Homo sapiens: one gene and its partners. The protein of the gene in region 2 purifies or fractionates together with the protein of the main gene of each other region. This does not show direct contact. Each region holds a gene or a part of one and is shown on either strand. Other genes may lie near its edges. The genes, in order: WARS2, NLN, SLC19A3, OLA1, PFAS, ACOT13 and RPIA.

What was found.
Region 1: the proteins of NLN (region 2) and WARS2 fractionate together in Homo sapiens (co-fractionation; one large-scale study listed by BioGRID). This does not show direct contact.
Region 3: the proteins of NLN (region 2) and SLC19A3 fractionate together in Homo sapiens (co-fractionation; one large-scale study listed by BioGRID). This does not show direct contact.
Region 4: the proteins of NLN (region 2) and OLA1 fractionate together in Homo sapiens (co-fractionation; one large-scale study listed by BioGRID). This does not show direct contact.
Region 5: the proteins of NLN (region 2) and PFAS fractionate together in Homo sapiens (co-fractionation; one large-scale study listed by BioGRID). This does not show direct contact.
Region 6: the proteins of NLN (region 2) and ACOT13 fractionate together in Homo sapiens (co-fractionation; one large-scale study listed by BioGRID). This does not show direct contact.
Region 7: the proteins of NLN (region 2) and RPIA fractionate together in Homo sapiens (co-fractionation; one large-scale study listed by BioGRID). This does not show direct contact.

What each region holds. Positions count from the first base shown.
Region 1 is NC_000001.11:119,032,654-119,036,153, forward strand, and holds part of WARS2 (tryptophan--tRNA ligase, mitochondrial isoform 1 precursor), read right to left. Parts: intron 1,561-3,500; coding exon 1,442-1,560; intron 736-1,441; coding exon of another isoform or gene 707-735; coding exon 258-706; 3' UTR 1-257. UniProt on the Homo sapiens protein: Catalyzes the attachment of tryptophan to tRNA(Trp) in a two-step reaction: tryptophan is first activated by ATP to form Trp-AMP and then transferred to the acceptor end of tRNA(Trp).
Region 2 is NC_000005.10:65,728,705-65,732,204, reverse strand, and holds part of NLN (neurolysin, mitochondrial), read right to left. Parts: intron 1-3,500. UniProt on the Homo sapiens protein: Hydrolyzes oligopeptides such as neurotensin, bradykinin and dynorphin A. Acts as a regulator of cannabinoid signaling pathway by mediating degradation of hemopressin, an antagonist peptide of the cannabinoid receptor CNR1.
Region 3 is NC_000002.12:227,708,029-227,711,528, reverse strand, and holds part of SLC19A3 (thiamine transporter 2), read left to right. Parts: intron 1-3,500. UniProt on the Homo sapiens protein: Mediates high affinity thiamine uptake, probably via a proton anti-port mechanism. Has no folate transport activity. Mediates H(+)-dependent pyridoxine transport.
Region 4 is NC_000002.12:174,081,033-174,084,532, forward strand, and holds part of OLA1 (obg-like ATPase 1), read right to left. Parts: intron 1,033-3,500; coding exon 892-1,032; intron 217-891; coding exon 120-216; intron 1-119. UniProt on the Homo sapiens protein: Hydrolyzes ATP, and can also hydrolyze GTP with lower efficiency. Has lower affinity for GTP.
Region 5 is NC_000017.11:8,262,789-8,266,288, reverse strand, and holds part of PFAS (phosphoribosylformylglycinamidine synthase), read right to left. Parts: intron 3,370-3,500; coding exon 3,296-3,369; intron 3,181-3,295; coding exon 3,024-3,180; intron 2,715-3,023; coding exon 2,653-2,714; intron 2,515-2,652; coding exon 2,353-2,514; intron 2,078-2,352; coding exon 1,952-2,077; intron 1,820-1,951; coding exon 1,688-1,819; intron 1,395-1,687; coding exon 1,164-1,394; intron 1,002-1,163; coding exon 821-1,001; intron 734-820; coding exon 650-733; intron 428-649; coding exon 272-427; intron 56-271; coding exon 1-55. UniProt on the Homo sapiens protein: Phosphoribosylformylglycinamidine synthase involved in the purines biosynthetic pathway. Catalyzes the ATP-dependent conversion of formylglycinamide ribonucleotide (FGAR) and glutamine to yield formylglycinamidine ribonucleotide (FGAM) and glutamate.
Region 6 is NC_000006.12:24,698,077-24,701,576, reverse strand, and holds part of ACOT13 (acyl-coenzyme A thioesterase 13), read right to left. Parts: intron 119-3,500; coding exon 1-118. UniProt on the Homo sapiens protein: Catalyzes the hydrolysis of acyl-CoAs into free fatty acids and coenzyme A (CoASH), regulating their respective intracellular levels. Has acyl-CoA thioesterase activity towards medium (C12) and long-chain (C18) fatty acyl-CoA substrates.
Region 7 is NC_000002.12:88,743,673-88,747,172, reverse strand, and holds part of RPIA (ribose-5-phosphate isomerase), read right to left. Parts: intron 1-3,500. UniProt on the Homo sapiens protein: Catalyzes the reversible conversion of ribose-5-phosphate to ribulose 5-phosphate and participates in the first step of the non-oxidative branch of the pentose phosphate pathway.

The DNA of each region.
Region 1 (3,500 bases), on a different chromosome or scaffold from region 2:
TCAATAATTGGGGATTCAGACAGCTATGCCTTCTTGATTTATTTTTTGTTGTTGTTGTTCACAGCATTTTGTTGATGGGATTTGGAACACTGTCGTATTTCAAAGCTACAAAGCAATATTCATCAAATAAAGCCAATAATCAGCTATACCAAATTAAATGTCCCAAAACTATAACTTTTTCTTTTTAGGAAAGCTGCCGTTATCAGAATGCATGGAGTGCAAGGCACAAAAGCCTTGCTGTGATTCGTTGAAACTTCCTATAGAAAACCCACCAATTTCTTCACCTCCTGGCACACAGTGTATGCTAATTCTTTGGCTTTTGCTGATCCAATTTGTAAAACCTTCTCTAAATGGTCCTTGTCCAGCTTCAGTTTTTCAATTTCACGCTTAATTGGGGCAAACTTCTCAATCACAGCATCTGCCACGGCCAGCTTGTAGCGAGCAGTGTTCATGCCCGCGCTGCGGCGCACCACTTCCTCCACGGAGAGCCCCGTCACCGCGGCATGCACCGCCACTATGTTGGACACGCCAGCGCGGCCAGCCGGGTCATAGGTGACCTCCGAGGTGAAGTCTGTCACAGCCTTGCGGAATTTCTGCACTATCTCCTCTGGGCTGTCTGTTATTCGGACGGTGGCCAGTTTGTCAGGGTCTGATTTCGACATTTTGGCAGAAGGATCACGTAGGGATTTTACCTTCTTCATGGATGCTAGGTTAAAAACACCAACACACACATACCCAAAACAAAAACAAAACAAACAGATCACCAAGATGTACACACAGACAGTTCCCAACTTGCAATGGTTTGAATTATGATTTTTCAACTTTACAGTGGTGCAAATGTGATATCCATTCAGTAGAAACTGTACTTGAAATACCCACACAACCATTCTGTTTTTCACTTTCAGTATAGTATTCAATAAATTACATGAGATATTCAATACTTTATTATAAAATAGGCTTTGTGTTAGATGATTCTGCCCAATTATAGACTAATGTAAGTGTTCTGAGCACGCTGAAGGTGGGCTAGGCTAAGCTGTGATGTTCAGTAGGTTATGTGTGTTAAATGCATTTTTGATTAACAGTGTTTCCAACTTACAATGGCTTTATCAGGATGTAACCCAATTATAAGTCAAGAAGCATCTGTTCATACTTCATAAATTATATACTACTTTATAAATATTATTTTAAATTTTTGGTCTCTTCCATACTTTTAAAATATTTTTAGTTATCCTTTTCAATAATCCAACATCTTTTTCAGGAATCCAACGTAGTCTACTTTCTAGTCCTACACTAGAGAAAACAATGAGGACTCTAGTTACAGATCCTGAAGCCTGTCTACAAGAAAGCTGAGGTTAGTCCCAAGAAAGTTCCAAGCCTATCTATTGTCCAATCCTCTCTTTAGAATATACCCTGATGTAACAATTATAAGTTTCTTACTTACTGAGAATGGACTCGGGCACTGGAAAGAACTCCCCATACTTCTTGTTGAAACCTTGTGCTAGATCCTGAACTAGTTCCATGTGCTGGACTTGATCCTCCCCAACAGGAACGTGTGTGGACCTTTAATAAAAGACAGACAGAAAAACAACAGCAAGGCTCTTTCTTAGAGACAGAAATGATATTGCAAGCAGCTGCATTTCCTGTGAATATTTCACTGTTGGTATTCAACAAATGTTCACCAACTATAGAGGGAATGTTTAGACCTAAGTCTTTATCTATGGATCAGACAAAAGCCAAAGAGATGTTTCTCTACTCTAGTTGTGTTTTTTCCACAGCAGGGGAATACAGCCATCAACACCAGCATGACAGGATCTTGCTGGGAGGGAGGAATGGGATTTTAAATAGCATATGCTCTAGGCACAATTGTGTTTTAAAACTACTCCTCATTCCCTCACCCAGTCAGCACATATTATTCCCAGCCCTGACCAGATGCTCTTTACCTCAGAACTACAGCTCATACTTGAAAGACACCCCACCCCACTCTTCAAATCAAAGGCAGCAGAAAGTTCTTCAGGCAAGAGTTTTTCCTCCCTGTCACATAGGGAGTAATTCAATATTCTTTGGAGTAAGCTTCATTTTCAAGTACATTGCAATCACAGGACAATTAATATGTTGCAGAGAACTTAAAATCTATAAGTACAATGTAGATGGCTATCAAAAACTATGTGGGATGAAAAAAGCAAGTTGGAGAAAACATGAAATACACTGACATTTACGTAAATTTTACAAGTGCCTATGGAAATATATCTGTAATAATAAGTAAAAAAACATACTGGAAGCTCCTCCCCAAATTTGTAATTGTAGCTGCTTCTAGAGAAGGTGGAAAGGAAATAGATCTGAAGAAAAGAACAAAGGAGACTTGAATTTTATCTGTAATATTTCATATTATGAAGAAATGAAGATGTGAAACCAAAAATATCAGAATATAGGGAATGACTTCATCATGAGTTTAATCCCATATGTAAAGTTTGCAGTGTCAGATCATGACATAGTACATCAAATAAGGGAAGAATGAACCATTATAGAGAAGTCTTGATGAGGAAAATTTTATACTGAAGCAATATGGCGGGATTAAAAAACAGGCAATTTTATACATGCAATGCTTGGCTGGGAGTTTATACCTGATAATACAAGTAATACAGTGCGCTGAGGTTTTTTTAATCAAAGAAACAATATTGCTCCTGTGAAAAAAGCAGCGAGCCATCATAGGCAAGTTTCTTACCCTTTCTAAGCCTTCGTTTCCTCTGTAAAGTGAGGTTCATCATGGAGCTTACCTCATATAGCTCTTTCATGGATAACACGTATACTAATTGATAGTAAGAGCTCAATAAATGGTTGCTATTGATATAATATATAACTATATATTCATTAATATCTGACATGATGAAGGACAAATAAAGGTAAAATGAAGGACAAATGGTAAAATAAAGATACTATAGAGAACCTTGATGAGGGGTACACTGACTTTTTTCACACCAGATCATTTTCCTTTTTCAGAGCTGACATACCACAAATAGTAATGCATAATCCCAGAGATAGTCACAGACCTGGGCAGTGATCCTGATATGCATAGAAAACTTACTTGAAACTGACAGTTCACATATCTGATCAGGTAATCCCAAAATATAAATGGTATGTTACAGGAATTCTGAGAGCTCTTTTAATTTAAGGAAAACAAGAACAGAACAATCAATGGAAAGGCAAAATGTAAGGACCATGACAGCAGACCCAGAGTGGTTTCTCTTCTTCTAAGGTCAATAAGTGAATGTTGGCCAGGTGCATTGGCTCACGCTTGTAATGCAGCACTTTGGGAGGCCAAGGTGGGCGGGTCACCTGAGGTCGGGAGTTCGAGACTAGCCTGACCAACAAGGCGAAACCCGGTCCCTGTTAAAAATACATAATTAGCTGGGTGTGGTGGTGCATGCCTGTAATCCCAGGTACTCCGGAGGCTGAGGCAGAAGAATCTCTTGAACCCGGAGGCGGAGGTGGAGGCTGCGGTG
Region 2 (3,500 bases):
TTATACTTCTTGCAGTTTTGCAGTTTCGGTGTTGATTTCCTTTTTGTTTCACTCAATAATTTGAAGAAGTCTTTTTAAAAAAGTCAGCCCTCATGATAGATAAAGGGTTTAAGTGTGAAAAATGAAACATAAAAGTACTAGAAGAAAATGTAGATGCTGGGTGTGGTGGCTCATGCCTGTAATCGTAGCACTTTGGGAGGCTGAGGTGGAAGGATTGCTTGAGCCCAGGAGTTTGAGATCAGCCTGGGCAACATGGTGAAACCTTGTCTCTACAAATAATACAAAAATTAGCCAGGTGTGGTGGCTCACACCTGTAGTCCCAACTACTTGGAAGGCTGACGTGGGAGGACTGCTTGAGACTGGGAGGCAGAGGTTACAGAGAGATGAGATTGTTCCACTATACTCCAGCCTGGGTGACAGAGCTAGACTCTGTCTGAAAAAAAAAAAAAAAAAAAAAAAAAAGAAAATGTAGGTGATTTTTAAAATACATAATCTTGGGGTGGAGAAGGACTTTCTAGGAATGAGACCAAAGGCAGAAATCATAAAGGAAAAGACTGATATTTCTGACTGTATAAAAATTTAAACTTTTGTAGGGATAAAGCAAAAAAGCAAAAAGCAACAATAATCTACCCCAAAAGTTCAAAGATCAAAAACAACTGAAACATCTATGAGGGGCTCTTACAAAGTAATAATCCTAATTTTAAAAATCCCAAAATAAAACTAGGCAATTCACACAAGTAAAAACAGTAACTAATATTTCTCGAGATTTTATTATGTGCCGATGTGGTAGACTGATAACTAACATGGCCTCAATTTTCTACCTGCTATGAGTCTATGTCTCTTAACAATGTGAGTTTGCTGTTCTACCCATCAAGAGATAGAGTCTGTTTCCCCACTTCTTGAATCTGGGCTAGCCTTGTGACTTGCTTTGACCAGTAGAATGTGGCAGAGCTAATGAGGTTCCAGTTCCAACTGCCTTCCACTCTCTCATGGAACCCTGCCACTGACATGAGAACAAGCCAGAGGTGGCTTCTTGGAGGACGAGACGTCACAGGAAAGAGGGCCAAATAGCCCCAGCTGTGGCCATCCTACATCACCAAACATGTGAGAGAGGATAGCAGAGATCAGCAGAGCTGCCTACACAACCCATGGCTGACTGAAGGAGCATGAATGAGTTAAGATCAGAAAAACTGCCCAGCCAAAATCTAGATTTGTCAGCAAAAATAAACATTGATCATTGTACTCCACTGAAATTCAGTTTGTTATACAGCATTTTTGTGGTAATAGGAATGGATATAACCAGGCAATGTTCAAAGTGTTCTATATTTGTTTCAATCTTAAAAGGTGAGTACAGGCCAGGCACGGTGGCTCACGCCTGTAATCCCAGCACTTTGGGAGGCAGAGGCAGGTGGGTCACTTGAGGTCAAGAGTTCCAGCCTGGCCAACATGGTGAACCCCTGTTTCTACAAAAAATACAAAAATTAGCTGGGCATGATGGCGGGTGCCTGTAATCCCAGCTACTCAGGAGGCTGAGGTGGGAGAATTGCTTGAACCCAGGAGGAGGAGGTTGCAGTGAGCTGAGATTGCGCCATTGCACTCTAGCCCGAGCAATAGAGTGAGACTCCATCTAAAAACAAACGAATAAAACAAAAAAAAAAAAAGAAGAAAATAGAAAAAAAAGGATGAGTCCAATTTTTCCCTGTCTCATCTCCTACTTACTTGCCTGACATTTATTCCATGCTAGTCACAATGGTCTCTTTACTTTCTCAAAAACACCAGGCATAGCCCTGCTTTCAGAGCCTTGGTGTGTGCCGTTTCTCCTGCTTAGAATGACCTGCCTCAGGTATTCACATAGCACAACTGCTCATTTCTCTTAGATCATTACTCAAGTATTAATATCACTTTCTTGGTAGCCTTTCCTGTTGACTCTACAATTTCCTTCCTATCGGTACTGAGCATTCCCCTTTCCCATTTTACTTTTGCTCTGCAGCACATTTTCCCATCTAACTTACTTTATATTTTCCTTAGTTGTCTCTCCCACTGGAATGTAAGTTCCATTAATGCAAAGATTTTTATCTGCTTTGTTCATTGCTATATCCCCAGACCAAGAATACTATTTCGCATATAATAGACAATAAATATTTGGTGAATGAAGAAATCAGCCAATCAATTATCAATTTACTGAGGAGGAAACAGATACGGAGAACTTAAGTATTCTTGCCTAAGATCACAATGCTAGTCAGTGGCAAAACCAGCATTCAAACTCAGGCGAGCTGTTTCTAGATTTATATAGTCGACTCTATGATGCTACATGCACTTTGCAATGCGGCAGCTTGGCATTTACATATGTATTCAATACACATCAGTTTCCTTGGTTCTTCATATCTTTAATTCAGGGGATTCTTCCCAAGTAAGTCCTGTGCTTTGTCTTAACCAAAGAGGTGATAATGTTTAACTCTGAGAAAGAACCAGGTTGCTTCTGACCAAAACCAGGGTTAAAGGACAAACAAAAAAGAAAGAAATCAATCCTCGGCGGAGCACGGTGGTTCACGCCTGTAATCCCAGCACTTTGGGAGGCCGACGCGGGTGAATCATGAGATCAGGAGTTCGAGACCAGCCTAGCCAACATGGTAAAACCCCGTCTCTGCTAAAAATACAAAATATTAGCTGGGCGTGGTGGCAGGTGCCTGTAATCCCAGCTACTCCGGAGGCTGAGGCAGGAGAATCACTTGAACCCAGGAGGCGGAGGTTGCAGTGATCCAAGATCGTGCCACTGCACTCCAGCCCGGGCAACAGTGCAAGACTCCATCCTAAAAAAAAAAAAAAAAAAAAAAAGAAAAGAAAACCTATTTTATAACCAAATCCATTTGTACAAATAATGTCAACCTAGCTCTTGATACTTTAACTTAAAAAACCCTTTCTTTACTAGATTTTTTTCCCCAATACTGTTCTCTTAACATTTTGGAGATTATGCCTACTGGTTTTAGAGGAATAATCTCAATTTTATTTAATTACACTTAGACCTGTAAATATTGTTAAGTTTATTAATAACTGTAATTTAGGCTGGGCCCAGTAGCTCATGCCTGTAATCCCAGCACTCTGGAAGGTTGAGGCGGGCAGATCACTCGAGCCCAGGAATTAGAGACCAGCTTGGGCAACATGGCGAAGCCCTGTCTCTACAAGAAATACAAAGATTAGCCGGGTGTGGTGGCAAACACCTGTAGTCCCAGCTACTCGGGAGGCTGAAGTGGGAGGATCGTTTGAGCCCGGGAGGTCGAGGCTGCAGTGAGCCATGATCATGCCACTGCACTCTAGCCTGGGCAACCAAGTGAGACTCTGTCTCAAACAAACAAACAAAAACACCAAGAAAACTGTAATTGAATTTGTCTGACTTTCTAAGATTTTCCATATAAATAAATTTTCACATCAGACAACAAATAACTTTTTGGTTTCCAGACCACAACTCCTGAATTTTTGTTTAGGAATTATACTCACTGAAT
Region 3 (3,500 bases), on a different chromosome or scaffold from region 2:
GATGAAGTTACAGCCAGAATACAATAACTCCCTAGAAGTTGGTGGAACCACCTTCCAATTTTTATTTTATTTTATTATTTTATTTTATTTTATTTTATTTTATTTTTTTGAGACAGAGTCTCGCTCTGTCACCCAGGCCACAATGCAGTGGCACTATCTTGGCTTACTGCAGCCTCCACCTCCTGGGTTCAAGAGATTCTTGTGCCTCAGCCTCCCAAGTAGCTGGGAGTATAGGAACCCACCACCATGCCCAGCTAATTCTTTTGTATTTGTATTAGAGACGGGGTTTCACCATTTTGGCCAGGCTGGTCTCGAACTCCTGACCTGAGGTGATCTGCCTGTCTCAGCCTCCCAAAATGCTGGGATTAAAGGCGGGAGCCACCGCGCCTGGCCACCACCCACTAATTCTGACTGCAGCAGAACGACGGTGGTTAAGCAAGACCCTGGAATCCTTTCCCCTGCCTTCCTTCAGGACCATCTTGCCCTGACTTAAGCTGACTGCAGCCCTTTGCTTTATTTGAATGTTTTACTGAAAGTTATATTCTCTTCTATTTTAGTAATAAGCAGATTAAAAGGCATAATTAGTTTGTCTGCTCTGATATGTCAGCTAAAAGCAAATATTTTTGTTTTTAGTAATCAGACTTTGAGTTTGCTCTGTCTAGGGAAGGGCTTGACTCTAGCAGTGTTGAAAGCCTGGGAGGTGGGCTTTTTGGAAACTGTAACTGATATAACATAAAATGTATTTGGTCTTTAAGCTAAAACTTTTGGGAATTCCTGAGTAACAGGTGTCTTTTTATTCATAATGACCCTCTTTGATAACGTGTTTATGCTAATAAGATAGCTTGGAGTGGGGTCCATAGATAGTCTAAAAACTGGGGGGGAAGGAGCTGAAGATCATGCTCTGTAAGATTCGTTTTTCTTTTTTTTAATATTTAAAGAGATGGGGTCTCTATGTTGCCCAGGCGGGTCTTGAACTGGCTAATTTTTATATTTTTAGTACAGACCGAGTTTTGCCATGTTGGCCAGGCTGGTCTCGAACTCCTAACTTCAGGTGATCCACCCGTCTCGGCCTCCCAAAGTGCTGGGATTACAGGTGTAAGCCACCGCACCCAGCCTTATTTTGTATTTTTGTAGAGATGGAGTCTGGCAAACATATAATTACCAATTTATTGCTCTTCTGTTTGAAAGAAGTGTTTTGACTGCAGTAAAGTTCTAGCCTATTGTGAAAATCAGGCTAGCCCATTTCTCAGATGGCTGCCTGGCTAGACACCCTCTCTGAGATGGCTGGAATGATTAGTAGAAAGGAGTGGGCAGGAAGTAGGTGGAGAGTGGGGATTCTAGATCAGGGGTCCTATGGCCTGTTAAGAACGGGCCATTACAGCAGGAGGTGAGTGGCGGGCAAGCAAGCATTACCACCTGAGCTCCGTCTCCCGTCAGATCAGTGGCGGCATTAGATTCTCCTGGAAGTGCAAATCCTACTGTGAACTGTGCATGCAAGGGATCTAGGTTACGAGCTCCTTGTGAGAATCTAATGCCTGATGATCTGAGATGGAACAGTTTCATCCCAAAACCATTCCCCCTAACTCCTCCCCCATTTTTTCATGGAAAAATTGTCTTCCATGAAACGGGTTCCTGGTGCCAGGAAGGTTGGGTACCACTATTGTAGATAATTTCCTTCCAAATTACTGGCATCTGGGTTAATTCTGGCAGTATTGTCAGTACAACATGGACGAGGACTTGATAAAGTGATTTCTTTCCACCCACCCAATATCTTGTTCTTCTCCAGGCAGTCAGTTGTGGGAAACTTATCAGGTTTGAGGGAGTTACTTGCTTTCATCAGGTCACCTTGTCCCCTACCTCAGGGAGCCCCACAGCTCTGAGTGCTTTGGCTGTGGGAGAATTCCATCCTCTGGGTGTGCAAGTGGGTGTGTATGGGTGGAGGAATCTGACCAAATAAGGCTTTACCTTAGCTAGAAAATCACCCTGGCTTCAGGAAACCCACCAGTGCATGCCAGCTTTGCAGTTCTTTTGTTGTTGTTGTTTTTGGGACAGAGTCTCGCTCTGTCACCCAGGCTGGAGTGCATTTGCTCAATCTTGGCATTTGCAACCTCCACTTCCCAGGTACAAGTGATTCTCGTGCCTCAGTCTGCCAAGTAGCTGGAATTACAGGTGCCCGCCACCATGCCTGGCTAATTTTTGCATTTTTTAGTTTGAGACGGGGTTTCACCAATGTTGGCCAGGCTGATCTTGAACTCCTGACCTCAAGTCATCCACCCGCCTCAGCCTCCCAAAGTGCTGGGATTACAGGCATGAGGCACAGTGCCCGGCCTCAGTTTCTGCAGTTCTTGCTTTTTAACAGTTGTTTACCCTACAAAAATGGAAAATATACTTGGAAATATTTGTGGACATAGGGCTTTTAAGTATATGCACTTAGAGATAGATACAGACAACCTATGGATTAGGAAATAGGACACTATCCATGTCTGAAATTTAAATAAGGTCCAAATTAGCTTAGATCCAATATGATTCCCCAATGCATATATGAACAATACGTGAACATTGTTGTGTGCACAACTATGGAAAGGTCTTAATCCGCACAGTGACTCTGAGATAAGACTCACTGAAGGAAATACAGCAGCAAACCCAGGAGATGTGAGTTCCAATCTTCATTTGTAACTCACTCCAAATGAGATCCTAGCAATGAAGTAATTTTTTTTTGTTTCCCACTAAAAACAAATAAACAAAAACCTTAGTTTTTCTATGCTACAGAATTAGGATGACAAATGAACTTATCTTGCAGTCACTATAAGAACACTGACAGTTTCAGAGATAGTATTAAAAATCAACTAAACACTTATAATTATTGTGAAAGCATTTATCTATCAAAGAAGGTTAGCCTGCAGCCAGTTGGAAAGTTTTTTTTGTTGTTTTTTTGGTTTGTTTGTTTGTTTGTTTGTTTGTTTGTTTGATAGAGACAGGGTCTCACTATGTTGCCAGGCTCTCCTGGGCTCAAGCAATCCTCCCGCCTCAGCCTCCCAAAATGCTGGGATTACAGGCATGAGCCACCGTGTCCGGCTGCCAGGTGGAAAGAACAATTTAAGGAGATGGTTAAAAGTGGAAAAGCCAATAACATGGTAATAATTGAAATAAAAGAAGAAAGAAAAAATTGAACTCTGATACAAAGAGACTACAACTGTGTAATAGGTTGCATAAAAAGAAATTTTGCAAACATGTAATAGGTTGCAAGGCAGATAAAAACAAAAATCATGAGAAGCCACTCCTGCCAAATTCATTCATAGTCAAAATACAAGTTAACTTTTGTGGGAGATTAAAAAAAAGAAAACTAAGAGCATTTTAAAATGAAGTAGGATTAGGTATGCTAGCAAGAGAGTTTTTTTCAAAAGGCTGTGGCACCCCACGTACCCCAAAGAAGGGGAGCCAGCAGTAAACAATGTGGCCTTATGTGGAATACATGGCAATGGGCTCCAAATACAGATTCA
Region 4 (3,500 bases), on a different chromosome or scaffold from region 2:
AAAACCTCATCTGTAATGACTAGCTAACCGCCACCATGACAAACTTCAAAGTCAGTGATATCAATCTGAATTCAATAGTGTGGAACTGGATATAGCTGATGAATAAGTATGAATCTTACCCTGATGGTCCATGCACGCACTTCATCTGGGCCTGCAGTGAAAAAGTATTCTAGTTGGAGTGCTGCAAACCCAGCCTTAATGATCTTTGGCAAAGCACTGAAATCAAATGAAACAAATTCACCCAACACATAAGTTGATTGTGCCAGAAATTGGTATAGAGCTAAAATTATTCATTTCAAGCAGAAAATGTTAAAGATAGTAGTAAATGACCATTCATCTTTCAGAATACACTGGAAGGGTTCAGAAAGCAAGTAACTGTTTTTAAAAACCTCTCTTCTAAAATTGGTTTTAATTGTATTAGCCTGAAGATATTATTTTGAATTGTTTGCTATTTAAAAAAAGAAAAATTATGACTATTTTCATCCAAAATTAATTATTTCCAGGACCTGGCCATAAAAGCAAAATTATTTGATTGAAATCTGATATTTAAACAATATATTACTGTTACTCAGAAAAAATTATGGCAACTGATTCACCCTTTCCCCTCCCCCACTGAACATGACGAAAGAGTTTTGGCGATCATTCCTTCTCAAAAATATACATAACTAATACCTATGTTATAATTAAAACACTGTACGGAGATGACAGATGACAGTTAAAAACTTAATTTAAAATAAATCTTTTCACTCTGTCTCATGGTAAAGAAAGGAGAAGATTCCCTCTTTATAATGGTAATTACTCTGTCATTTATTATTCTATCAGCGCAAGCAATTAAATTACTGCAAGGAAATAGTTGATAATAAAGTGTAGGGAAAATGAATGCTAATTAACCTTTGTGTCATGTTCGCTTCCAGATACTTCTGTCTCTCCTCAGCACTCAATTCTTGCAACTTGAGTTCCAAGGCCCCACTAAAAGGAATGACCAAAGCACCTGGGTCATACTTGTCCACCCACTCTTTAATTTTTATCAACCTGTAGACAAAAAAGGGCACAACATTATCTTGTAGTGCATGCATGACTGTACCACATTCATTATTATCAAGTAGCACATACATATTCATAAGAATTGCACGGTTTTATGATGCCATCTTTTTGTATATAGCTTTCCAAGGTCAAGGCATTAACAGGCAGCAACTGCTTCAGGTATACGCCATAGTATTTTACTGTAACCTAGTTTTACTTTAGCACATTATCTATGGAAACTATTATACAAATATTTAAAAACTTTTTTTAGTTACACTAAAATTGTTCAGCATTAACACCTGTACCCTTGAATAAAGCTTCCATTTTATAATTTTTTGTTTTCCTTACTTTACAAAGTAAATTTTTAAAAGAAGACATAAAGTTCTGTTTGTACAGGAATCATACCTAAAAATACCAGCTAATTCTGAAGAGCCCTTCACAAATAAATAATTTGTTCCAGCCAGATATCTATATGCCTGGTTTAGTTCCTTCATGGACTAACAGAACTCACAGTGGTCACTAGTTTTGAGGAAGCTTTTTCCTAGCCAGAACAAGCACGTGCAGAAATACAGATTTACAAATATGGTTGATCACGTACGCAGCTGTATGAACCTGACTTTTGTGAGAACAAGAATAATAGAACTGCAGAGGAAAGAAATTCCTTTAATCACAAAGGATTTGGAAAGCCAAATCAGTTAGGAAACTGATCCTAGTTGTTACCTGAAAAGACATTATTGAGTCATTTTTTTTCCTTCCAAAGCATGGAGTATTTGGCAAAGTAGTAATTAGAACATAAATGAAATAAGTGTAGTGAATATATTAATTAGGTTCAGAGCCTAACACTTTCCTAGCTTTTTATTACTGGGCAGGTTACTGAACGTTTCTAAGCCTCAGTTTCCTCACTTGTAAAAATAGAGATAATAATAGTACATATTATATTGTAAGGAACCTAGAAAAGCCTGCAAATAGTAAAGAATTAACAGCAGTTACTATTATTAATTTTCCTTCTCAGATAATCATAGCATACATTCCTATGAATCTGGAACTGAGTTTAGTGTGAGACTATACATTCCATTAAAATTTTTATAAAATTATGCTATAGGCTTACATAATTCCACTAGACTGCTATATTTAGACAAAGGTTTTAATAGTTATTATGGCAAAATGCTGTGGCAGAAGTCCTTTAAATAATTAATGTAAATGCCACTTTAGGGGAAAAGAAAAACAAGAACTAAGTCACAAATCCATCAATGGCAGGGGAGCAGAGTTATTAGAAAATTAAGACTATGGCCCATTGAGCAGGATTTAGGATGGGAGAAAGGAATGAAAAACAATCACACAAGAGTTTGTATATGTTTGTTATACAAAGGTAACTACTTATTTAGTATGTTATTTGTGGTTTTCAATCTTCATAATAGTATTTTTTCTTTTGTTCATATCCCAAAAAATGGACCAAGTCCTATGATTTATGTTGCCTTTAACATAAAATTCAAACTAGATGTTTTCTTAACCAAAATTAAGAAGGACAGGTTAAAAAAAAGGTGGGGGGACTGAAATTGGTGCTTCTGTCTCCGTTAACATTATGGTATTCTAAGTTACTTCACAGACTTACACTATTCAAACAAAAGTCTATATTCAAATGTTATCATCAATGGTTTAGTAACTTACTTTCATTATACAAGTTAAAATCAAATATGTAATTTTAAAAAAGCAGATCACATACCAAATAGATTCAATGAAAGTGAAATAAAACAAGCCCATGTAAAAGGAGAATATAAAAATATCATACACACTTTATTTCATAAATATGGTCAACAGAACTAATAAAACTAGAACTGTTATGAAACAACAAGATAAGAAATAATTACTTTAGCTAACACATCAATTCAGAATAACAATAGTCCTACCCTGTCATTTTAACAGCCTTTCCTGCAGAGTTCTCAGAGGGATTATTTGCATTCCTCAGGTGTTCTATTGTACAATTCAAATGAATAAAGACTTACAAATCATTCCTCTACCGCCAATGTGAGACTTTGATCTGGTGAATACACTATTGTACCTTAACTATAATTGGCAAAAAACCTGACAGTGTAGAGCATCACAAGCTTAATAACAAAGGAGAATATCTCAAAGTGTTGACAGATGATCTTCATAATGCAGAAGCAGAGCTGGTACATTTTAGCAGTAAATGAGCACTGAGGTCTAAAGGTCTCTAAAGTGACTGACATCAGACCTGCTATAGCCTCACTAAAAGAAAAAGGTACCGTAGCACTCTCCCGTAAAGTGAGTTAGGCTCTTTGCCTGCCAGCTTCACTTTTGTGACTTTCACTGTCATAGAAAACACAGGGAAGATGAAAAGTGAGTGAGGTTCTTTGGCTGTCTGCTTTACTTTTGTGACTTTTACTATCAAACAAAAGTGGGAAATGTCCCAAAATGATTTTTAATTACATCTATGAAATAAACCTAGGGTAATTAAA
Region 5 (3,500 bases), on a different chromosome or scaffold from region 2:
AGGCATGTGACGAGGCCTCCGTCACTGACATCGTGGCCTGAGCAGAGGAGGCGGTCTGGAGGAAGGAGAAGAAAGCTCAGCAACCTCGGGACCCAAACCTGACAGCCCCACCCCACCTTCCGGAGTCAGTCCATCAAGAGTGTGTGTCAGAATGTCAGGGGATCTGGGGTACATCGTCCATTGGAGTCCCTTTTGCCCCACTGCTCAGATGGTGAACGCCTGCTGCACGCCTGGCACCCTGTGCGCTATCTCCCCAGGGGTCTTCACTCACCTTTCAGCAGCCCCTGAGTGATGCTGAAGGCCCGCACCAAGTTCTCAGGAAGGTCCAGGTCTGGAGGGTGTTCCCCAAGCTGGGAGAAGCACTGGGCCAGAGCTGTGCCCCCGAGCCGGTGCTGCCCAGGGCTCAGAGCCACATAGAGCAGATGGCCTGGGGAGACGGGGAGGGGTGAGGGGAGGGGAACAGCTCAGGAGGACCCATCCCTGAGGGGCTCACAGCACTGCTATTCCCAGCATGTGGTGAGACACCTAGACAATCAGTCCCAGAAAACACCACAGCCCAGTGTTGAGATGGGGGCCCAGCACTCACAAAGCAGGAGCCAAACAAAGATCACACAAGCAAAGATCACAAAGGATGGGGCCATGTCCATACCTCTCCCTTCAGGATGCTTGAGGTCTGGGGTCACAGTGGCTGTGATGTCTGGGCAGACGGCATAGGCTGAGATGACCAGTGACCCTGTAGAGCAAGGAGGAGTCCAAAGGAATGAGTTGCCAACCCAGCTCCATAGTTCCTCCTCCCCTCCCTGGGGCTCCCACACCTCACCAGGAGCCCGCACGGTCTCAGTGCCAACCCGAGCAGCCATGCTGAGGGAGTCCTTGCCACCATCCACTGCCACACCCAGGGCTGCCATCACTGCCACCATAGCCTCACAGGCATCCGCCAAAGCTGCGCCCTCCCCTGGGAGCTTGGCTGCCCACATCCAGTTCCCGCTACACTTCACATCCTGGGGGTGGCAGAGGCACAGCATTAGAGGGGAAGAGAAATGTGGAGAGGCCAGGGGTGCAGGCGGACTGGGAGGTTGCAACATGAAATGAAGGGCTACAGATGGATGTGGAAGGGTCCTGAAGCCCGGGGGCTCCAGGATAGAAGCTGTGGGAGAACTCACCCGGAGGTCAGTGACCAGAGCAAACACCAGGTTGGTGAGGGCTTCGGCCACGGCCAGCCGGGCGGCGACTTTTGGGTCCAGCAGGCTCTTGACTGGCTGTTCTCCCAAGGCTGTGGCAGCCCCTATGAGCTCCTCATGGCTCAGTGCCACAACCGCTACATCTGCCAGAGGAGTTTGCAGGGGCCCCACGCACTGCTGCTGGGCCACCAGGCCTCCCACAGAGCGGTCCACCTGTGGAACCAGGTGGGGTTAGCAAGAGAGCAAGGGACAGGGACAGCCTGAGCTCCCGCACATGCCCCCAAGGCACTCAGGGCAGTGGGAGGCCTGTCTTTCCCCCAATGCAGACAACAGCTCTACTTAGAAGGTGGGTAGCAGGGAGACCAGGCCATCAGGGTGGCTGCCCTGCCCCTGCTGCTTCCTGCAGGGCCAGGCAAAAACCCCCACAGCACTTTCTAAGGGTGGGAGGGCAGAAGAGGCTGAGCGGAGGAAGGAGGCAGGGGGCAGAGGAAGGGTGCAGGGAGGACCTTATTGGTGAGGTAGCGCTTGCTGGCCACGGCGGGCAGCCTCAGAACCCTCTCCAGAGCCTGGTGCACGCTCAGCCCTGGGGGCAAGGCCAGAGGCTGCAGCATGGGGGGCTTCCTCTGCAGGAAGAACTCCTGCAACACAGACAGCGACAGGCAGTGTGAACACCTGGGGCGGGCTGGGCACACAGGCGACAAAGTGCACGTAGGGTAAAGGGTGGTGTGGAGAGGACCACAGGAAAAACCCATCCCCTCAACCCCACATACCTTCCGAGGCATCTTGCCCAGCACCCATTCGAGCTCCAGGTCCACAGGGGTTGGCAGGGGTGTCGGGGGGGCATCCCCCTGGCCATTTCTTCTGACAGGACACTCCCGATCGTCCACCAGCACTATCTATAGACCACAGGGACCCCACCCAGAGGGGATGAGACTATGAACACCAGCAAGGAATGTTCCTAGAAATCAGGGCACAAATGTGCTTTCCACTCCTTGTTTGGTTTCCATATTGAGTCCCTGCCCCTCCTTGGATCCAACATTCCCCACAGCTTGTTTGCCACTACCTCCCATCTTCCTCTCGTCTCTCTCCCTTGACAGCTCTCCCTCTAGCCCATACCCAGGTGGCTCATGTCTGCCCCAGTGTTTGCTCCCAACTCCCTGGGCCAACTCACTCTCCGGTCTCCAGTGATGGTGCCCACGAAGCAAGCCGGGCAACGTTCACGGGCACTGACATGAGTCAGGAAGTCCCGGTTGGGGGACCTCAGCAGAAGAGCATTTGATTCCTGGTACTCAGCCCCCCAGATTTCCAGGGCATTCAGGGTTGGGTCCCCAAGCTGCACAGCCACGGCGGGGAGGAAAGAGAAGGGCCAGTGGGCACTCCCACGTCTCATGTTGTTGCAAGAGAGATGGGTGGAAGCGGGCTGGGGCTGGCAGGGGTGGGAAAATGTCACACTTCAGGGGACGAGACCCACCTGGAAGCGGCTGGTGTAAATGATGGCTCCAGCTGGGTCACTCAGCTCTTTTAGGACATTGCCTGGTGAGAGGGTTGCAAGGAGAAGCAGTGACCTAGTGGTGGTCAGGCAACAAAGGGCAGTCCCTGGCCTCCAAAGGGGCCTGTAATTTGGTGTGTTCCTGTGTCAACTGCTGCCGCACCCTTACCACCAATCATCCCACGGCAGCAGGCTTCCACCCTTCCAACCCTGAACCTGTCTAGAATGTACAGAGCATGGAGAATGGGACCCAGAGCTGGGTGGTTGGTTGGAGATTCCTGATACCTCTCCCTAAACGAAACCTGGCAGGATACCAGGCAGGCCCAGTCTCTTGTTCCAACTCCTTTCCTCACCATTGCCACCAGCGCCCTGATCATGAAGGCTGCAGATGGGGTTTCCCTTGGGGGCCTCCACACAAGCCCTGATCACACGGTTCATCTTCTGTTCCATCTCCGGGTCTCCTCGCTGCACAGCCCCAAAGTCCAGGTCACTGGTGTTATCTCCCTGCACCTGGGGGCATATATGGCATAGCTCAGCTCAGCGAGACTGGAAGCTCCTATACGCTCCCCTATGCCTGGGGCCCGGTTATATCAAGGATTCTGCACCTTTAGCAATTCCCACTCACCTGCACAGATGAAGCAGCTCCACCTCCAACTCCAATCCTGTAGACGGGACCTCCAACCTTTACAACTTCCATGCCTGTAAGAAGGGAAGGCAGAATCAGAACACTGGGGAAGCCACGAGAAGAGGCCTCGAAAGCAAGGCAGCGTGAACACAGAGGAAGCTGATGTTAGGGAGAAGCCTGACCAGCTTTTTTTTTTTTGAGATGG
Region 6 (3,500 bases), on a different chromosome or scaffold from region 2:
TAATTTTCCTGTGGCCTTGTTGGTCAGATCCACAGAGGTAAATGCAAGTGTTTTTCCTTGCTTCAGAACATGTGCTGTAATCACTATATCTTCTCCTAATTTTGCAGGTGACATGTACCTTGAAAGAAAATGAATATAGTTAACAGCAGATAATTTTTCAAAGGGAAAGTTGTGTGCATCTCACAACAGTGTTCCTATGTAACTTATTTTACTCCTAAAAATAGTTTTAACGGTAGTATTGGTAAGCTTTCTGTACTATCAAATGTGAATGGCTGGTCCTAACCAGGTTCTATTTTACCCATTCCTTACCCACACAAGTTTCTTTTCCCAAATATGTGAGAAGAGGTTTTCTTGCCTCCCCTTTTTTCCCTTTACATTTCCCACTTCACATTTATTTGGGGCTGGTGAAAGATTTCCTCCAGCTTTCATTTAATCTCCTTAACTTCTTAGATGAAATATCACTTGGTGTCTGTATATTGTCCTATCCATATTTACAATTTATTTGACTCTAAAATGACAATATAACAACTATAAGGAATTGATATGATGTCCTTACAATCTTGATGATGGACTGTCTATATTTTTAAGAGATGTACATCCTAGTCACTTGTAATCATAAGTTGTCTTTAACTCAGCTGGCTCCAGCTAATTAAAAAAAAAATTGGGGAGATGAGGATTGTTTAAAACAAATGTTAATGTTTTAAAGGGAAATAATTTCCTTACAGTTTATTTTTATGTTTCTGCTTTTTAGAAAGAAACCTTTAAAAAGGATATGTATTTTTGCCATATTCAAAATAAGACTTCAGTATTTATGGCTAGGAGGTATAAGAAAGGTGGATCTGGCCGGGCACGATGGCTCAAGCCTGTAATCCCAGCACTTTGGGAGGCCGAGGTGGGCAGATCACCTGAGGGCAGGAGTTCGAGACCAGCCCGGCCAACGTGGTGAAACCCCGTCTCAACTAAAAATACAGAAGTTAGCTAGGCATGGTGGTGGGCACCTGTAATCTCAGCTACTTTTGAGGCTGAGGCAGAAGAATGGCAGGAACCCAGGAGGCAGAGGTTGCAGTGAGCCGAGATCGCGCCACTGGACTCCAGCCTGGGCAACAGAGCAAGATTCCATCTCACAAAAAAAAAAAAAAAAAAAAAAAAAAGGTGGATCTTATTGCTGGAAAGAACAGGCTTGTCTTTAATTCACATACCTCAATGTAAAGAAATGAAAAATAGTATGTTTAGTAGTAGTTTGGCCAGTTTTTATTATTTCCCTAAATTTTGTCTTAGAAATCAAGAATTTTGGCTAACAGCCATTAACTTAAACTGAGGGAAGATAAGGAACCCTTTGTGCTACAGATGAGTAAACATTAAGTCCGGGGAATTTGGAGATTGACATTTTGTCAGTAATACTCTAAAATTTCCCCTTTTGTTGTTTTGGAACCTCGCTTGTTTTTAACCTAAGTCACAGTCTAACAGGCATCCTCAGTCTGTATAATATAGGACTTGATGTGCAGGGGTGGAGTAAATTTGGTACCATGTCAAGTAAATCAAAGAGTGAATCATGAAGTGTTAACTGACTGAAACATTATTCATTTACTTTTGAAATATCTCTAACTTTTGAAAGACCATGTCCTAGTTTTTGTTGAAGTGAATCAGTTTTTGAAGCGTAGGCAGCTCTTGATGGCCAATGCTTTTGGCAACACATATTTGAAAGGCCAAAACTATGTTTGACTTACTGAAAATTCCTTAGGGTTCTAAAGGCAAAAGTACCTTAGTAGATCATGAAATGCAGTGCTAGGTTTGAAGATCTCTCTGCTCTTAATAGAGACTTTTAGGGAAAATCAAGTCATCTACTGATCTCACCTCTTACCACATGAAATAAGGACTGCTGAATATGCACACCAGTAACATAAGCAGAGCCTTTCTTTTCTGTACATCTTAATTTCAAAAAGAGCATTTGGCTGCATCTTGTAATTTGCTTATTGTACCCTCAATTTAAGTTATTCCCATGAAGAGGGACTGAATGTTTCTTAAGTAAACTTGATAAAATATTTAGATTCCTTAAAAGCCTACATTGGCTGGGCGCGGTGGCTCACGCCTGTAATCCCAGCACTTTGGGAGGCCAAGGCGGGCAGATCACAAGGTGAGGAGATCGAGACCAGCCTGGCTAACACGGTGAAACCCCATCTCTACTAAAAATACAAACAAATTAGTCGGGCATGGTGGCAGGCGCCTGTAGTCCCAGCTACTCGGGAGGCTGAGGCAGGAGAATGGTGTGAACCCGGGAGGCGGAGCTTGCAGTGAGCCGAGACTGCACCACTGCACTCCAGCCTGGGCCACAAAGCGAGACTCCGTCTCAAAAAAAAAAAAAAAAAAAGCCTACATTATTTCCATTACCCTCATATCTACTCACAATGGCTCTCTCAACCTGACCTCTCAGTTAGTTACATTTTTGTTGCTTAGGTGGAAAAAGCAGTTGTCTTGAAACTAAATCCCTGTGCCCAGCTCTTTCTTTATTGAATGGGGCTGCAGTAGTACCAGTTTATGTTGGAATTGAGTTTCTTACATTTTGGAAGTTTGACCCTGAGGGGCACTGTTCCCTGATCATGTAGTTTAACTCACAGAACATGTCTGTGTAGTCACAGGGAGAGATCCAGGATTGCTGCCCATTCTTAAAACTCAACACTTTGGGAGGCTGAGGTGGGTGGACACTGGAGGTCAGGAGTTCAAGACCAGCCTGGCCAACATGGTGAAACCCCGTCTTTACTAAAAACACAAAAATTAGCCCAGCATGGTGGCGCACACCTGTAATCCCAGCTACTAGGGAGGCTGAGGCAGGAGAATTACTTGAGCCCCAGAGGCGGAGGCTGAAGTGAGCCAGATTGTGCCGCTGCACTCCAGCCTGGGTGATGGGGAGACTCCGTGTCCAAAAAAAAAAAAAAACCCCAGCAATGGTGTTCAGTTTGTTAGAGTAAGATTATAATGTGTATATGAACTCTAACTTTACTTTGAATTGTATGTACTCAATACAATCCTCATAGTGTTATAAGTGGTATTTTTAAAATTAAATAATATTTATTTTTTGTAGAGATGGGGGTCTTGAACTCCAGGCTTCAAGCAATCCTCTTGCCTCGGCCTCCCAAAGTGCTGGGATTATAGGCGTGAGCCACTGCGTCTGGCCCTGAATGGCACTTTTAAGGACTGTATGAAACAGTTATGAGCCATCAGTTTGTGATTTTTCCCCCTGCATCAGTATACACATTAAAAGCTGAATGTTGCTCTTTTGAATGTTTGGGATCATTCCCTTTTTACTATTGATACACACTGTACTTGCAAATTAACTGCTCTAGTTCTAGATTTTAAGGCTGGAATATTTTAGGACAAAATCTATAGGTGCAGTTAAGGAGATAAGCAGCTAATTGAATCTCATGCGTTACTAATAATATAAATGTGTTTAGTCTCAGTTGTTTAGACAGTTATCACACAGAAGGGATTTGGAATACAGTTTG
Region 7 (3,500 bases), on a different chromosome or scaffold from region 2:
ATAACTCCATTGACCTGAGAACCACTCCCCAACCCCACACAGTGGCCACAGCAAGCCCTGCCCAAGGAAAGTCTGACTCAGACCCACCTAACTCTGCCCTAACCTGATGGTTTTTCTCTACCTGCCCTGGTAGCCAAAGACAAAAGACATAAACTCTTGGGAGCTCTATGGCCCTGCCCATTACCTAAGAAACCAAAATACTTATCCTGGCCTACATAGACAAGCTTGTATCCCCCCTATACTACTACAGCTGATGCTTTCTTGAAAGCACCACCTCCTCGCTGAAGGCCAACCAACTCAAGCCACTACAGAAACTCGTAACAGAACAACCCTGCTCCAAAAAGGGAAAAACAACAGCTAATTCCACCGCCTGCAACATCCTGGCTAACCAGAGATCCTGAGTCTGTCCACATGGCAACTTCACTGCTAGCATAAACCAGCATTCAAGAAAACCAGTGCACTAAACAAAAATACAACCAGGGACTCCCACAGAGTCCACTTCACTCTCCTGCCACCTCCACCGAAGCAGGTGCTGGTATCCACAGCTCGGGGACCTAAAGACAGATCACATCACAGGACTTTCTGCAGACATTCCCCAATACCAGCCTGGAGCCCAGTAGCCGCACTGGGTGGCTAACCCCAGAAGGGCATAACCACTGCAGTCCAGCTCTCAAGAATCCTCATCCTTAGGGGAAGGCGAAGAACACCCCATCAAGGGATCACCCCATTGGACAAAAGAATCTGAACAGCAGCCCTTGGGTTCCAGATCTTTCCAATGAAACAGTCTACTCAAATGAGAAGGAACTAGAAAACAAATTCTGGTAATACGACAAAACGAGGTTCTACAGCACCTCCCAAAGATCACACTAGCTCTCCAGTAACGGAGCCAAACCAAGAAGAAATCTCTGAATTGCCAGATAAAGAATTCAGAAGGTTGATTATTAAGCTACTCAAGGAGGTACCAGAGAAAGGTGAAAACCAACTTAAAGAAAATTTAAAAGGACTCCAGAGAAACAGATATCATAAAGAAAAGATAATCAAACTTCTGGAAATGAAAGACACATTTTAGAAATGCAAAATACACTGGGAAATTTCAACAACAGATTAGAACGAGTAGAAAAAAAGAACTTCAGAGCTCGAAGACAAGGCTTTCAAATTAACCTAATCCAAGAAAGACAAAGAAAAAAAGAATCAAAAAAATGAACAAAGCCTCCAAGAAATTTGGGATTATGTTAAACAATCAAACATAAGAATAACTGATGTTCCTGAGGAAGGAGAGGAGAGAAATCAAAAAGTTTGGAAAGCTTACTTGAGGGAATAATTGAGGAAAACTTTCCTGGTATTGCTGGAAATCTAGACATCCAAATAAAAATGCTTGAAGAACACTCAGGAAATTCATTGCAAAAAGATCACCACCTAGGCATATAGTCATCAGGTCATCTAAAGTAAGACAAAGGAAAGAATCTTGAAAGCTGCCAGGCAAAAGCATTAGGTAACCTATAAAAGAAAGCCTATCAAATTAACAGCAGATTTCTCAGCAGAAGCCCTACAAGCCAGAAGGGATTGGGGTCTTATCTTTAGCCTCCTTAAACAAATTAATTATCAGCCAAGAATTTTGTATCCAGCAAAACTAAGCTTCATAAATAAGGAAGAGATACAGTCATTTTCAGACAAACAAATGCTGAGAGAATTCGCCACTACCAAGCCAGTCCTACAAGAAATGCTAAAATGAGTTCTAAATCTTGATACAAAACTCACAATACACCTAAATAGAACCTCCTTAAAGCATAAATTTCACAGGACCTATGAAACAATATCACAGTGCAAAAAAACAAGGTATCCAGGAGACAACTACCATGATGAATAAAATAATACCTCATATCTCAATATTAACGCTGAATGTAAACTGCCTAAATGCTCTACTTAAAAGGTACACAATGGGCCAGGCTTGGTGGGCGGCCAAGGCAGGCAGATCACCTGAGGTCAGGAGTTTGAGACCAGCCTGGCCAATATGGTGAAACCCCGTCTCTACTAAAACCACAAAAAAATTAGCCAGTCATGGTGGCGGGCACCTGTAATCCCAGCTACTCAGGAGGGTGAGGCAGGAGAATTGCCTGAACCTGAGAGGTGAAGGTTGCAGTGAGCCAAGAACATGCCATTGCACTCCAGCCTGGGCAACAAGAGTGAAACTCTGTCTCAAAAAAATAAAAAGATACACAATGGCAGAATGCATAAAAATCCACCAACCATGTATCTGTTGTCTTCAAGAGACTCACCTAACACATAAGGATTCACATAAACTTACTGTAAAGGGGTGGGAAAAGATACTCCACACAAACAGAAACCAAAAGCAAGCAGGAGTAGCTATTCTTCTATGAGACAAAATAGACTTTAAAGCAACAAGTTAGAAAAGACAAAGAGGAACATTATATAATGATACAAGGATTAGTCCAACAGGAAAATATCACAATTCTAAATATATATGCACCTAATACTAAAGCTCGCAAATTTATAAAACTGTTACTACTAGACCTAAGAAATGAGATAGATGGCAATACAATAATAGTGGGAGACTTAAGTACTCCACTGACAGCACTAGACAGGTCATCAAGACAGAAAGTCAACAAAGAAACAATGAAATTAAACTATACTCTGGAGCAAATGGACTTAACAGATATCTATAGAACTTTCCGCCTAAGAAGTACAGAATATATATTCTTTTCTTCAGCCTGGAACATTCTCCAACATGACAGGCTACAAAACAAGTCTCAATAAATTTTAAAAAATCTAAATTATATCAAGTACTCTCACAGATCACAGTGGAATAAAATTGGAAATCAACTCCAAAAGGAACCCTCAAAACTATACAAATACATGGAAATTAAATAATCTGCTCCTGAATGATCTCTGGGTCAACAATGAAATCAAGATGGAAATTTAAAAATTATTTGAACTGAATAATAATAGTGATACAACCTATCAAAACCTCTGGGATACAGCAAAAGCAGTGCTAAGAGGAAAGCTCATAGCCTTAAATGCCTAAACCAAAAACTCTGAAAGAGTACAGATAATCTGAGGTTACACTTCAAGGAACTAGAGAAACAAGAACAAACCACACTCAAACCCAACAGAAGAAAAGAAATAACTAAGATAAGAGCAGAACTAAATGAAATTGAAACAAAAAATACAAAAAAGATAAATGAAACAAAAACCTGGTTCTTTGAAAAGATAAAATCGATAGACCATTAGTGAGATTAACCAAGAAAAGAAGAGAGAAGATCCAAATAAGCTCAATTACAAATGAAATGGGAGATACTGCAACCAATACCACAGAAATACAAAAGATCATTCAAGGCTACTATGAACACCTGTATGTGCATGAACTAGAAAATCTGGAAATATACAAGCCTCTTAGATTAAAGCAGGAAGAAACAGAAACTATGAACAAATCAATAACAAGCAGCGACACTGAAACAGTAATTAAAAAAACTGCCAACAAA